3 linked regions of the Homo sapiens genome follow. The protein of the gene in region 1 purifies or fractionates together with the protein of each later gene. This does not show direct contact. Each region holds a gene or a part of one and is shown in the gene's direction. Other genes may lie near its edges. The genes, in order: CACNG6, MSMO1 and LMBR1.

What was found.
Region 2: the proteins of CACNG6 (region 1) and MSMO1 purify together in Homo sapiens (affinity purification with mass spectrometry; one large-scale study listed by BioGRID and IntAct). This does not show direct contact.
Region 3: the proteins of CACNG6 (region 1) and LMBR1 purify together in Homo sapiens (affinity purification with mass spectrometry; one large-scale study listed by BioGRID and IntAct). This does not show direct contact.

What each region holds. Positions count from the first base shown.
Region 1 is NC_000019.10:53,998,018-54,001,669, forward strand, and holds part of CACNG6 (voltage-dependent calcium channel gamma-6 subunit), read left to right. Parts: intron 1-221; coding exon 222-296; intron 297-1,616; coding exon 1,617-1,754; intron 1,755-3,652. UniProt on the Homo sapiens protein: Regulates the activity of L-type calcium channels that contain CACNA1C as pore-forming subunit.
Region 2 is NC_000004.12:165,330,603-165,334,254, forward strand, and holds part of MSMO1 (methylsterol monooxygenase 1), read left to right. Parts: intron 1-2,737; 5' UTR 2,738-2,768; coding exon 2,769-3,023; intron 3,024-3,652. UniProt on the Homo sapiens protein: Catalyzes the three-step monooxygenation required for the demethylation of 4,4-dimethyl and 4alpha-methylsterols, which can be subsequently metabolized to cholesterol.
Region 3 is NC_000007.14:156,725,674-156,729,325, reverse strand, and holds part of LMBR1 (limb region 1 protein homolog), read left to right. Parts: intron 1-605; coding exon 606-682; intron 683-1,318; coding exon 1,319-1,396; intron 1,397-3,488; coding exon 3,489-3,562; intron 3,563-3,652. UniProt on the Homo sapiens protein: Putative membrane receptor.

The sequences.
Region 1 (3,652 bases):
CACAGGTCTGGGGCTCAGAGCCCCGGGTAGGAGTCCCAGCTCCTAGATGGCAGTGTGGTCGCAGGTGGCTTTCACACCTCTGGGCATCATTTTTCTCCTCTGTGTATCAGGGATGCTGATGTCCAAGTTTTAGGCTCCCGTGGGCTGTTAACTGTCCAGCCCTGAGCTTACGCAAGGGACCTCACATCCTCATGTCTGTTTTCTCTCTCCTGCTCCCACAGAAGCAAACTGCACCTATTTTAAATTCTTCACCACGGGGGAGAATGCACGCATCTTTCAGAGAACCACAAAGAAAGGTGAGAACTTTTCACCCCCTGCTGGGTGACAGGTGGGGGAAATGCTGAGCGTGCTGGAGGAGTTCTAGAGAGAGTTATCCCCTCCTCTGCTTTACCCCAGGGCAGGTCTCGTGTCTATAATCTGTGGCTGTCCCCTGGGGAGTGCTGGCGGGAGAGTTAATGATGGGGACATGGTGCTCTAGAGAATCTAGAGAACTCTTTTTTTTTTTTTTTTTTGAGATGATGTCTTGCTCTGTCACCCAGGCTGGAGTGCAGTGGCACAATCTCGGCTCACTGCAACCTCCGCCTCCCAGGTTCAAGCAATTCACCTACCTCAGCCTCCTGAGTAGCTGAGACTATAGGCGCCCACCATCATGCCCAGCTAATTTTTATATTTTTAGTAGAGATGGGGTTTCACCATGTTGACCAGGCTGGTCTTGAACTCCTGACCTCAGGTGATCCCTCTCCTCAGCCTCCCAAAGTGCTGGGATGACAGGCGTGAGCCACTGCACCTAGCTGTGCCTAGAGCTCTTACCCCATCTCTGCCTATGCCACGTTCTGTGTCACCCCGGGCAAGTCGCAGCCCCTCTCTGTGGGTAGCACTTGGACATCTCACAAACCTGCAGGCATCAAGTACTGACCACAGTGCTGGGCACTCCATCTGTAAGATCTCCAGTCCTCGCAGTAGCCCTGCAGGGTGGGGGCTTTATCTTCCATCTTCCAGAAGTCCAGGAATGGTTACAATTATTCTTCCCAGGAAAATTTTTCACCATGTTGGCCAGCCTGGTCTTGAACTCTCCTGATCTCAAGTGATCCACCCACCTTGGCCTCCCAAAGTGCTGGGATTATAGGTGTGAGCCACCGCACCTGGTCCACAGGAGGAAATTTAGGCTGAGAAGGGTTCAGCCTAAATTCCTACTGGAATCTGGAAAATCCTACTAGAATCTTCCATGTAGGAAGTAGTTGGTGAGATTTCCAACCTGGATCATTCCACTGTAGCACACTGCCTTTGCCATCGTCTCCCACACACCCCACTGCCTCAGCTTCCTCAACTGTAAACCAGTGGTAACCAGATCCTAAGTAATAGTTGGTAATTCTCAACTCTTTCTAATCCTGGCCCTCTCCTCCCTTTGCTCAGTGACTTTAGAGAAATAACTGACCCTTTCTGAGTCTTAATTCCTTCAACAGTGTAAGTAAAATGTTGGGCTGGATGATACTCTACTTGAAAATTCTTCTCTCGTCCCGAATCTTACATCTTCCTGGTTCTGGGTTCCTATGGGTGAATCCTCCTCATTCCCTACATCCCATGTTCTCTGCTTCTTTCCTCTCTCCTGCTGGCAGAGGTGAATCTGGCAGCTGCGGTGATAGCAGTGCTGGGCCTGGCAGTCATGGCCTTGGGGTGCCTCTGTATCATCATGGTGCTCAGTAAAGGTGCAGAGTTCCTGCTCCGAGTTGGAGCCGTCTGCTTTGGCCTCTCAGGTGAGGGTTCAGAGCCTGGAGGCTGAGGACATTGCATGCTGGGAGGATCTCCAGGCACTGTTGCATGCTGGGAGATGGGGTCTCTATGCACTGTTGCACGCTCAGAGATGGAATCTCTATGCACTGTTGCATGCTGGGAGTAGGGTCTCCACACACTGTTGCATGCTGGGAGTAGGATCTCCACACACTGTTGCACGCTGGGAGGTGGGATCTCCAAGCCCTGTTGCATGCTTGGAGTTGAGGGGAAGCCCAAGGGCTATAGTAGGTTCAAAGATGGGAGAACCCCAACAACCGGGCTAAGGATTGGAGGGTGTCCAAACATTGTTTTAGATTTGGACCTGGGATTTCCAATCACTGTTGCATGCTAGGCATTAGAGAAAGCGCAAGGACTATAGAGGTCTCAAAAATTGGAGAGTTCTAAGCCCTGTTGTTGGCTGGGAATTGGAAGCTGTCCAAACGCTTTTCAAGGTTTGAACATGGAGTCCCCAAACACTGTTTCATGCTGAGATGTTTTAAGCACTATAGCGTGTTGAGAGGTCAGGGAAGCCCAGGGGCTATAGCAGGCTCAAAGGTGGAAGAGTTCCAAGCCCTATTGTTGGCTCAGAATTTGATGGTCTCTAAATGCTCTTTTAGATTTGAGACTTGAGGTCTGCAAGGACTGTTGCATTCTTGGAGCTGAAGGTCTAAATAAAATGCTGCATCTTGTGAAATGTAGCCCTCAGTAATAAACAACACTTCAGTTTATTGTACTTCCAGTTCAAATCCTTACAACAGCACTATTAGGCAGGGCTTACTATCCCCCATTTTATTTACTTATTTATTTTTGAGACAGAGTCTCCCTTTGTCTCCCAGGCTGGAGTGTAATGGCATGATCTCGGCTCACTGCAACCTCCGCCTGCTGGGTTCAAGTGATTCTTCTGCCTCAGTTTCCCAAGTAGCTGGGATTACAAGCAGGCACCACCACGCCTGGCTAATTTTTGTATTTTTCGGTAGAGACAGGGTTTCACCACATAAGCCAGGCTGGTCTCGAACTCCTGACGTCAAGTGATCTGCCTGTCTTGGCCTCCCAAAGTGCTGGGATTATAGGCATGAGCCACCACACACAGCTTCCCCCATTTTATAAATGAGGAAATTGAGGCTCAGAGAAGTCAGATGAATTACTCATGGGCACACAATCAATGATGGCATGATGGCAGAGGTGGGATTTTAAACTCGGTTTTCTTTCTTTCTTTTTTGAGATGGAGTCTCACTCTGTCGCCCAGGCTGGAGTGCAGTGGCACGATTTCAGCTCACTACAACCTCTGCCTCTAGGTTCCAGCCCAAGCTGTGCCCTGAATCACTGTGTGGCCTTGGGAAGGTTCCTTTTATTTTCTGGGCCTTGGTTTTCTTCTTGGATCAAATGTTTTCTTTTCTTTTCTTTCTTTTTTTTTTTTTGAGACAGAGTTTCGCTCTTGTTGCCCACGCTGGAGTGCAGTGGCACAATCTCAGCTCACTGCAACCTCCGCCTCTCAGGTTCAAGCAATTCTCCTGACTCAGCCTCCCAAGTAGCTAGGATTACAGGTGTGTGCCACCACGCCTGGCTAATTTTTGTATTTTTAGTAGAGACAGGGTTTCATCATGTTGACCAGGCTGGTCTCCAACTCCTGACCTCAAGTGATCCACCCACCTTGGCCTCCCAAAGTGCTGGGATTACAGGCGTGAGCCACCGCGCCCGGCCAAGACTTTCATAAAACACTTTTATATCAACACCTTCCTGTGCACCCCCAGGGGTAATGCAGGTGTGAGTTTAATAATAACGCCAGCACCAAATTCCTACCAAGCTACAAATTCCATGAAAACAGACATCATCTTTATCTTTTTCATCGTTCTGTCCTCAGGGATTTAGAGAGGGCCTCTCT
Region 2 (3,652 bases), on another chromosome or scaffold:
GCCTTATTTTACAACTTAGAAGATGATTGAAGACATTTTGGTGCAGGTGGGGAGCCAGATTGCAAGTAGCTCAGTGAGTTGTGTGGGTGAGTTAAGCAACCTTTTTTATTCTTTTTTTTTGAGACGGAGTTTTGCTGTTGGTGCCCAGGCTAGAGTGCAGTCACAGCTTACTGAAACCTCCACCTCCTCATTTCAAGCGATTCACCTGAACTCCTGACCTTAGGTGATCTGCCCGCATCAGCCTCCCCAAGGTGCTGGGATTACAGGCGTGAGCCACCATGCCCAGCTGAGTTAAGCAATCTTTATGTAGAGCTCTCCTTTGAGAAAGAAGTTGGTTGGTTCAAAGAAAGATAAATGGGACAGTGGCTTGGAAGAGGTAATGGAGGCTAGGAAGGTGTTTATCAACAAAGGAAGATGTAGGCTGGGCGCAGTGGCTCACACCTATAATCCCCACACTTTGGGAGGCTGAGATGGGAGGATTACTTGAGCCTAGGAGTTTAAGACCAGTCTGGGCAACATAGGGTGACCCCTGTCTCCACAAAAAATTAAAAAAATTAGCCAGGCGTGGTGGCATGTGCCTGTGGTCCCAGCTACGAGGGGCTGAGGTGGGAGGATTGCTTGAGCCTGGGAGGTCGAGGCTGCAATGAGCCATAATTGTGCCACTGCACTCCAGCTTGGGTGACAGAGTGAGACCCTGTCTCAAAAAAAAAGAAAAAAAAAAAGAAAAGACGTGAATGTGTTTTTAGACCTGAAGGAATGGATTCCATGAAGGGAGAAGGATGAAAGATGGGAAAGGATAAGTGATGGACAAGTTCTTGAGGTAAGATAAGAACACAGGAAGACTAGTCAGTCTTAGAGGAAAGAATGAATGAGCAAAGAAATTTTAAGGCCTGTAATGACACAGGATGGAACACTATAGTCACTGTGGTGTAAGTCATTTGAGATGAGTAGGACAGAAGGAGGACGGCCTGAAGTGAATTCAGATGCCTGGAGGAGTTGGCTAGGTTCTCAATATTCCTTCTGTAGAATGGGATAAAAGGTCAGTTTGAGAAGTGTTGGGGAAGGGGACTTTTAAAGCACTATTTAGAATGCTTCTGAGGCTTTAAAATACTCATTTTTAAAATGGTCCAAAAAATTCATAAATTAGAAGCAGCAGTGGTGAACATTTTTAGGAAAGTGACCCTTGAGAAGTTTATTTTTTGGTTAGTGACCTATTGAGCTTATTTATTAGGTAAGTAGAACATGCTCATTTAAAAAGTTTAAATTGTGCAAAAGACATATGTCAGATTTTTTTTTCTGTCTTCCATAACACTATTTCCTACCCCGCCGCGCTCTGTCTTCCGTAACACTCTCCCCTACCCCGTCGCCACTCTGTCTTCCATAACACTGTCCCCTACTCCACCACACTGTCTCCTACCCCGCCGAGCTGTCTTCCATAACACTCTCCCCTACCCCGCCACGCTGTCTTCATTAACACTATCTCCTGCCCTGCCACACAACTCTGTTTTCCTAGAAGTCACCAGTGTGAATTTTTCCCTTTATCCATATGTACATTTTTTGTTTCTGTGTGTCTGTGTATATACATATGCATAAAAGTGCATAGATAAAATACATATCCTTTTCAAAAAATCTTAAGTGGGGCTCTTGCTATGCATACTGTTCTGTAACTTGTTACTTGGATTAACACTGTATCTTAGACATCTTTCTATGTAGAGCGTATAGATCTTCCCTGTTCTTTTAAATGGCTGTATAATTGTCTATGGAAGGACTTAATTTATTTAACCCATACCTTGTTGATGGCTTATTTGTGTTTTGCTTTTATTTTTTCCTCTTTGTTTTTGCTGCTACAAGCAATGCTTCCTTCCATCTTAGCGGATCTGTCTTTGTACCCTTGAATGAGAAAGTTGCTGGATCAAAGGATGTATTCATTTTGAATTAGGTGTTGCTAATTTTTCCTCCAATGATACACTGATGTATCCCCCCTGCCCACAGTGTGTGGTCATGCCTGTTCTCTCACCCTCTTACCAGTACTGGACATTAATAAGCTTTTAAAGATTTGCTACTCAGGCTAAAAGTGTCTCTTTGTTTTAGGGTGCATTTCCTCATTTAATGAAGTGAAGATTCTTCCTTGTTTAGTGACCATTTGCCTTTATTTTTCTGTGAACTGCTTGTGAATGGCATTTGTCGTTCTTCTGTTGTCTTTTTAGTCTTTTTTCTAAAGCACACTTTGTAGCCCTTTGTTGTAAAATGTTGGAAATATTTTTCCCAGTTTGTCATTTAATCTTTGACTTTGTCTTTCTATTCCCCAGTAGGAGGTACTTAATTTTTATATACTCATATTTGGCAGGCTTTTTCTTTATAGGTTCTTTTGGCTTTAAGTGATACTTTTAAACCCAGCTATTGCTCATTTAAATTAGAACCTTTTCCATGAGAACCACACTGACGATTTCTTTAAATATAGCTTGAAAAAATTTTTCCCCTATTGTTCTTTTAGCTATTGTTCTTGAAAATAATGTGTTTTTTAAAGGAATATCTACAAATAGAAATGGTGATGATATCCAGCAAATGTTTTAAAATGGTGTAAAACCATTTGTACTCCTTTAGTAATTTTTTGGTAAAAAATTTATACTCCTTTAGTAATTATCATTTTTAAAATGATCAGAGGATGCATTTTTTAACTGTTTTATTTTTTGAAAGCTCATTGTTTAACTTATTATATATGTATTCATTTCTACAGAATTATAAGGCTGTCTGCAGAGATTTGAAAAATGGCAACAAATGAAAGTGTCAGCATCTTTAGTTCAGCATCCTTGGCTGTGGAATATGTAGATTCACTTTTACCTGAGAATCCTCTGCAAGAACCATTTAAAAATGCTTGGAACTATATGTTGAATAATTATACAAAGTTCCAGATTGCAACATGGGGATCCCTTATAGTTCATGAAGCCCTTTATTTCTTATTCTGTTTACCTGGATTTTTATTTCAATTTATACCTTATATGAAAAAATACAAAATTCAAAAGGTGAGTATAAGGGACTAGAAATAGAATATTATCATTAATGTTGCTGAATATTTTAAAAGTACATAGGGCTTTGTTTTGTGAGGCTAAAGCAGTGATATCCAATAGAAATATGAAGCCACGTATGTAATTTTAAATTTTCTAGTAGAATACATAGAAAAGGTAAAAAGAAATAAGGAAATTAATTTCATAATGTGTATCATTTAGCTCAATAAATGTAAACTATCGCTGGGTGCAGGGTCCATGCCTGTAATTCCAGCACTTTGGGAGGCCAAGGCAGGAGGATTGCTTGAGGCCAGGAGTTCAAGACCATCCTGGGAAACATAGCAAGACCCTGTCTCTACAAAAAAGATACAAAAATACCCAGGCATGGTGATGTAAGTCCTAGCTACTTATGAGGCTGAAGCAGAAAGATTGCAGCACTATACTCTAGCATAGGCGACAGAGTGAGACCTTGTCTCAAAAAAAATAAGAAATAAATGTAAATTATTATTTCAATCAGTAATCAAATTCTAAAAAATACTTAATGAGATATTTAATAAGTCTTTGCAATTCCGTGTGTATTTTACATTAATTTTAGTCTATCTCAATTTAGACTAGCCATGTTTAAAGTGTTTGGAAGCCACATGTTA
Region 3 (3,652 bases), on another chromosome or scaffold:
GTAGAAAATTATTGCAGAACCTGTGGCTATAGAAGGCCTACTGTATGTCTGTATTTTCAGAGTCAGCTGTATATCAACAATATATTTCCTTAATGATTGAGATGTCTTCACAGAGCTGAAATTTACGCATCACAGGATTGAGGTGTTTAATGTAGCAAACTGGTTTTAAAACTCTGATTTTTGTCTGGGTATCGTAGTTCGTGCCTGTAATCTCACCATGTTAGGAAGCTGAGCGGGGAGGATCGTTTGAGCCCAGGAGTTCAAGACCAGCCTGGGCAACATAGCAAGAACCTGTCTCCACAAAAAATAAATAAAAAAATTAGCCAGGCATGGTGGCATGTATCTGTAGTCCCAGCTACTTGGGTGGTTGAGATGGGAGGATCACTTGAGCCTAGGAGGTTGCAGTGAGCTGCGGCTATACCATTGTGCTCTAGCCTGGGTGACAGAGCAAGGCCCTATCTGTAGTTTTTTTAGTTTATGGAGGAAAATTAAAAGTAATTTATGTTTTTTAAAAAGAAATTATGTATAAAACAGATTATAGCATTATGGAAGGAAAATGTTAATTTGGAGAAAACTTTGTTTTATTTTGTTTTTCCTTTTAATAGAGAGGCGAAAAAAGGCTTCAGCATGGGAAAGAAATTTGGTGTATCCCGCTGTTATGGTTCTCCTTCTTATTGAGACAGTAAGAATTTATTTGCCTAGTTAAATAAAAGCAAATTATATTTTATTTACTTCAGCATTTGAGTATGGCAGCTCCCTCAGCTAAATGGTTTTTCATAAACTAGTTTTCTATCAACAGGATTAAAATCCATCTATGCCTTTATTTATGAAAATCCAATAAAGCAAAAATGGAAATTAATGGCAATTTAAAAAAAATTCTGAAGATTATCTGTTTCTTCATGAAAGCAGGAAATTCAGTCTTTGTTTTCATTGAAAATTAAGAAAACAAGGTGTTGCAGATAACCTGCTTTAAATTCTGTGATAAAATATGAAAATTACATTATGAAGTTAGTTCTGATAATATTTTACCACTTTTTTAAGTCTGTGGAGTTGTGTGTTTCCAATTGGTGAGATCACTTAGTAAAAGGATCTATATACTACCAGCTTTTGTCACAAGCTTTGAAATGACAATAACTTGCAGAATCTTTTAGAATTTCTTCAGTTCTTGTTTGTAGTCTGATTACTTTAGTTTTATATATAGCGTTTTGGTCTTGACTGCTTTCCCTCTATTCTGAAACGTGTATTTGGTTACCTAGATTTTAATATTTTGTATTGGTGAAAAATCTTGAGAGCTGACAGTTTGCTGTTTGTCTTGTAGTCCATCTCGGTCCTCTTGGTGGCTTGTAATATTCTTTGCCTATTGGTTGATGAAACAGCAATGCCAAAAGGAACAAGGGTAAAGTAAAATCCTTTAAAATGTCTTTCTTTTGCAAAAGTATTCTATGTCTATACCCTGAGTATTTCAAGTAAGCAAATGAAAACATTCACCTTTGTGCATGTATATACTTCAAGTTGTATGAATTTCTTTATGCAAAGAGCCTTTAAAATATAAACTGTGATTTTTGTTTCTAATTTTTTACTTTGGATTGACAGGGCCTTTTTTCAAGTGTTGGAATTTCCTTTTAGATTTCTTATCAGAGTTTATCTTGATTTTACTGAAATTCATTTAGCTATATGAAATTCCTTTAGCCATAGTCTTGATTCAGATCCCCCCACCTGAGTCTTTCCAGGACCTTGTGCCATCTGTTATTGCCATTGTTGTATTCACTTACAGCCTCTTCTCCATGAGTACAAGCCCACCATCATGCTCCAGGTGCCTCATCCTACAGACAGACAAGAAACTACCCTTTGCCATGTACAGTCTTATCTTTTTCTTTAGTTTTATACCCAAACCCACTGATAGAACAGGAAGTCGCTTACTATACTGACTTCCTAGTCACTTTTAACCCATTTTACTATACCAACAAAACAAGTCCCAAGCCCTATAGTATATTTTTGTACCCATCCCCCTTAGTGCTTAGTGGAGAATGACTTGTACGTCATAGGAGATCCCTGTATAATTGTGTAAAAAAATTAGATACTCTTAATCCTTCCTACATGGCTTCTCTTGAGATAGCATAATTCCAAAGTATTATCTCTGTTGATCAATAAGCTTCTGTAGGGGAGAAGAAGTAATACCTTTTTCTAACCTATTGGAAGGTTCATGGCTGAGATGCCTATAACAAAAGATTAATAAGAGAAAAGCTGACAAACTTATTTAAGATAAGTTTTACATATCACAGGGGTCTTCAGAAATAAAGAAGACCAAAGAAACAGAAAAAGCTGTGTACTTTTATGCTCTGGTTTGTTGAAGAGTGGACAGTAGTGGGAAGTATGATTGGAAGACAGGGGTGTGATCTAATGATTATAAACCGGGGGGATTTAGCAAGGCCTGTTCATATTCTTCTCGGTGTCCTCGTGTCTCCGGAGATAAACATGTGCTTCTCCTCTGGGTGGGTTGCGGGGGGCACCCTTGGATGGGGGTCTTATGGCCTGCTTCGCAGGAGAAGGAGACAGATCAGTGTGTGACCTTCCTAGGTTTTCTCAAATACCAGGTCCCAAATTTTGGAGTAGTGTGTCTTGAACCCCATCACTTTCTACCAGCATCATTTATTTCTTCTTCAAAAGATTGTCAAAAAGTTATTTTTTATTGGGCTGACTGTAGATTCTTAATTATCCCTGGTGTTTCTATTAGATGTAATCTGTGCTGACTAGTAAAACATTCAGATAGTTTCTTTTATTAGTAATCTTTGAAAATACTTCAGTAGGGAATGATTTTTTCAGATCTAATTATAAAAATAGTAACTTTTTTGTGTTTTTTTTTTAAGTTCTAGGTAAAGATAGTTTTTGAGATAGGGATAATTGTTTAGGAAAAAATTTATAGCATTACTTTTTTAAAAATCTATGTTAACAGTTACATCCTTTGTAACTCTGAATTCCCAAGGAAAATTTGGGCAAAGGAAACTTTCAGGTATGGGAACAGGATATGCACATTTACTCTCTTTCTACTCTTAGCTTAATTTTGACATACTTGAATTGTGTAATCTTTGTATATTGTGTAAGCATTCAGATAGCTATGTATCCTATTCTTATTTTTCTATTGTGTTTTTAAAAACTCTTTCCCAAAACTATTCAGGATTTTTTTCCTCAAGTGGCAAGTTGCCCCATTTTATAACAGTAAGCATAATCATGTCATCTTGACAAGTAACTTAAATTACATTTGAGATAAGTAATTTTTCTTGAGCTTATTAAAATTGTTAACATGGTGCCTGAATTTGTTGATGAAATCAGTCTAATGTCATGTCTTGTTGGCCTTTGAAAGTCTAGATGTTATTTCAAAGTAGTAAACATTCATAATTTCAACTGTCTTATTTTATGAAACAGCTGTTTTAGGGAAACCAATATAATGGTGTCATCAAATTCTGAAAAGTGTCTTTCTCCCACCCCAGGGGCCTGGAATAGGAAATGCCTCTCTTTCTACGTTTGGTTTTGTGGGAGCTGCGCTTGAAATCATTTTGATTTTGTATCCTTTCTTTAACTGAACGTTCAGCCTATCCACAAATTTTATACCAAGTTTTCTGGGGCAGTAGTTATTTACTAAGACACTTGTCTA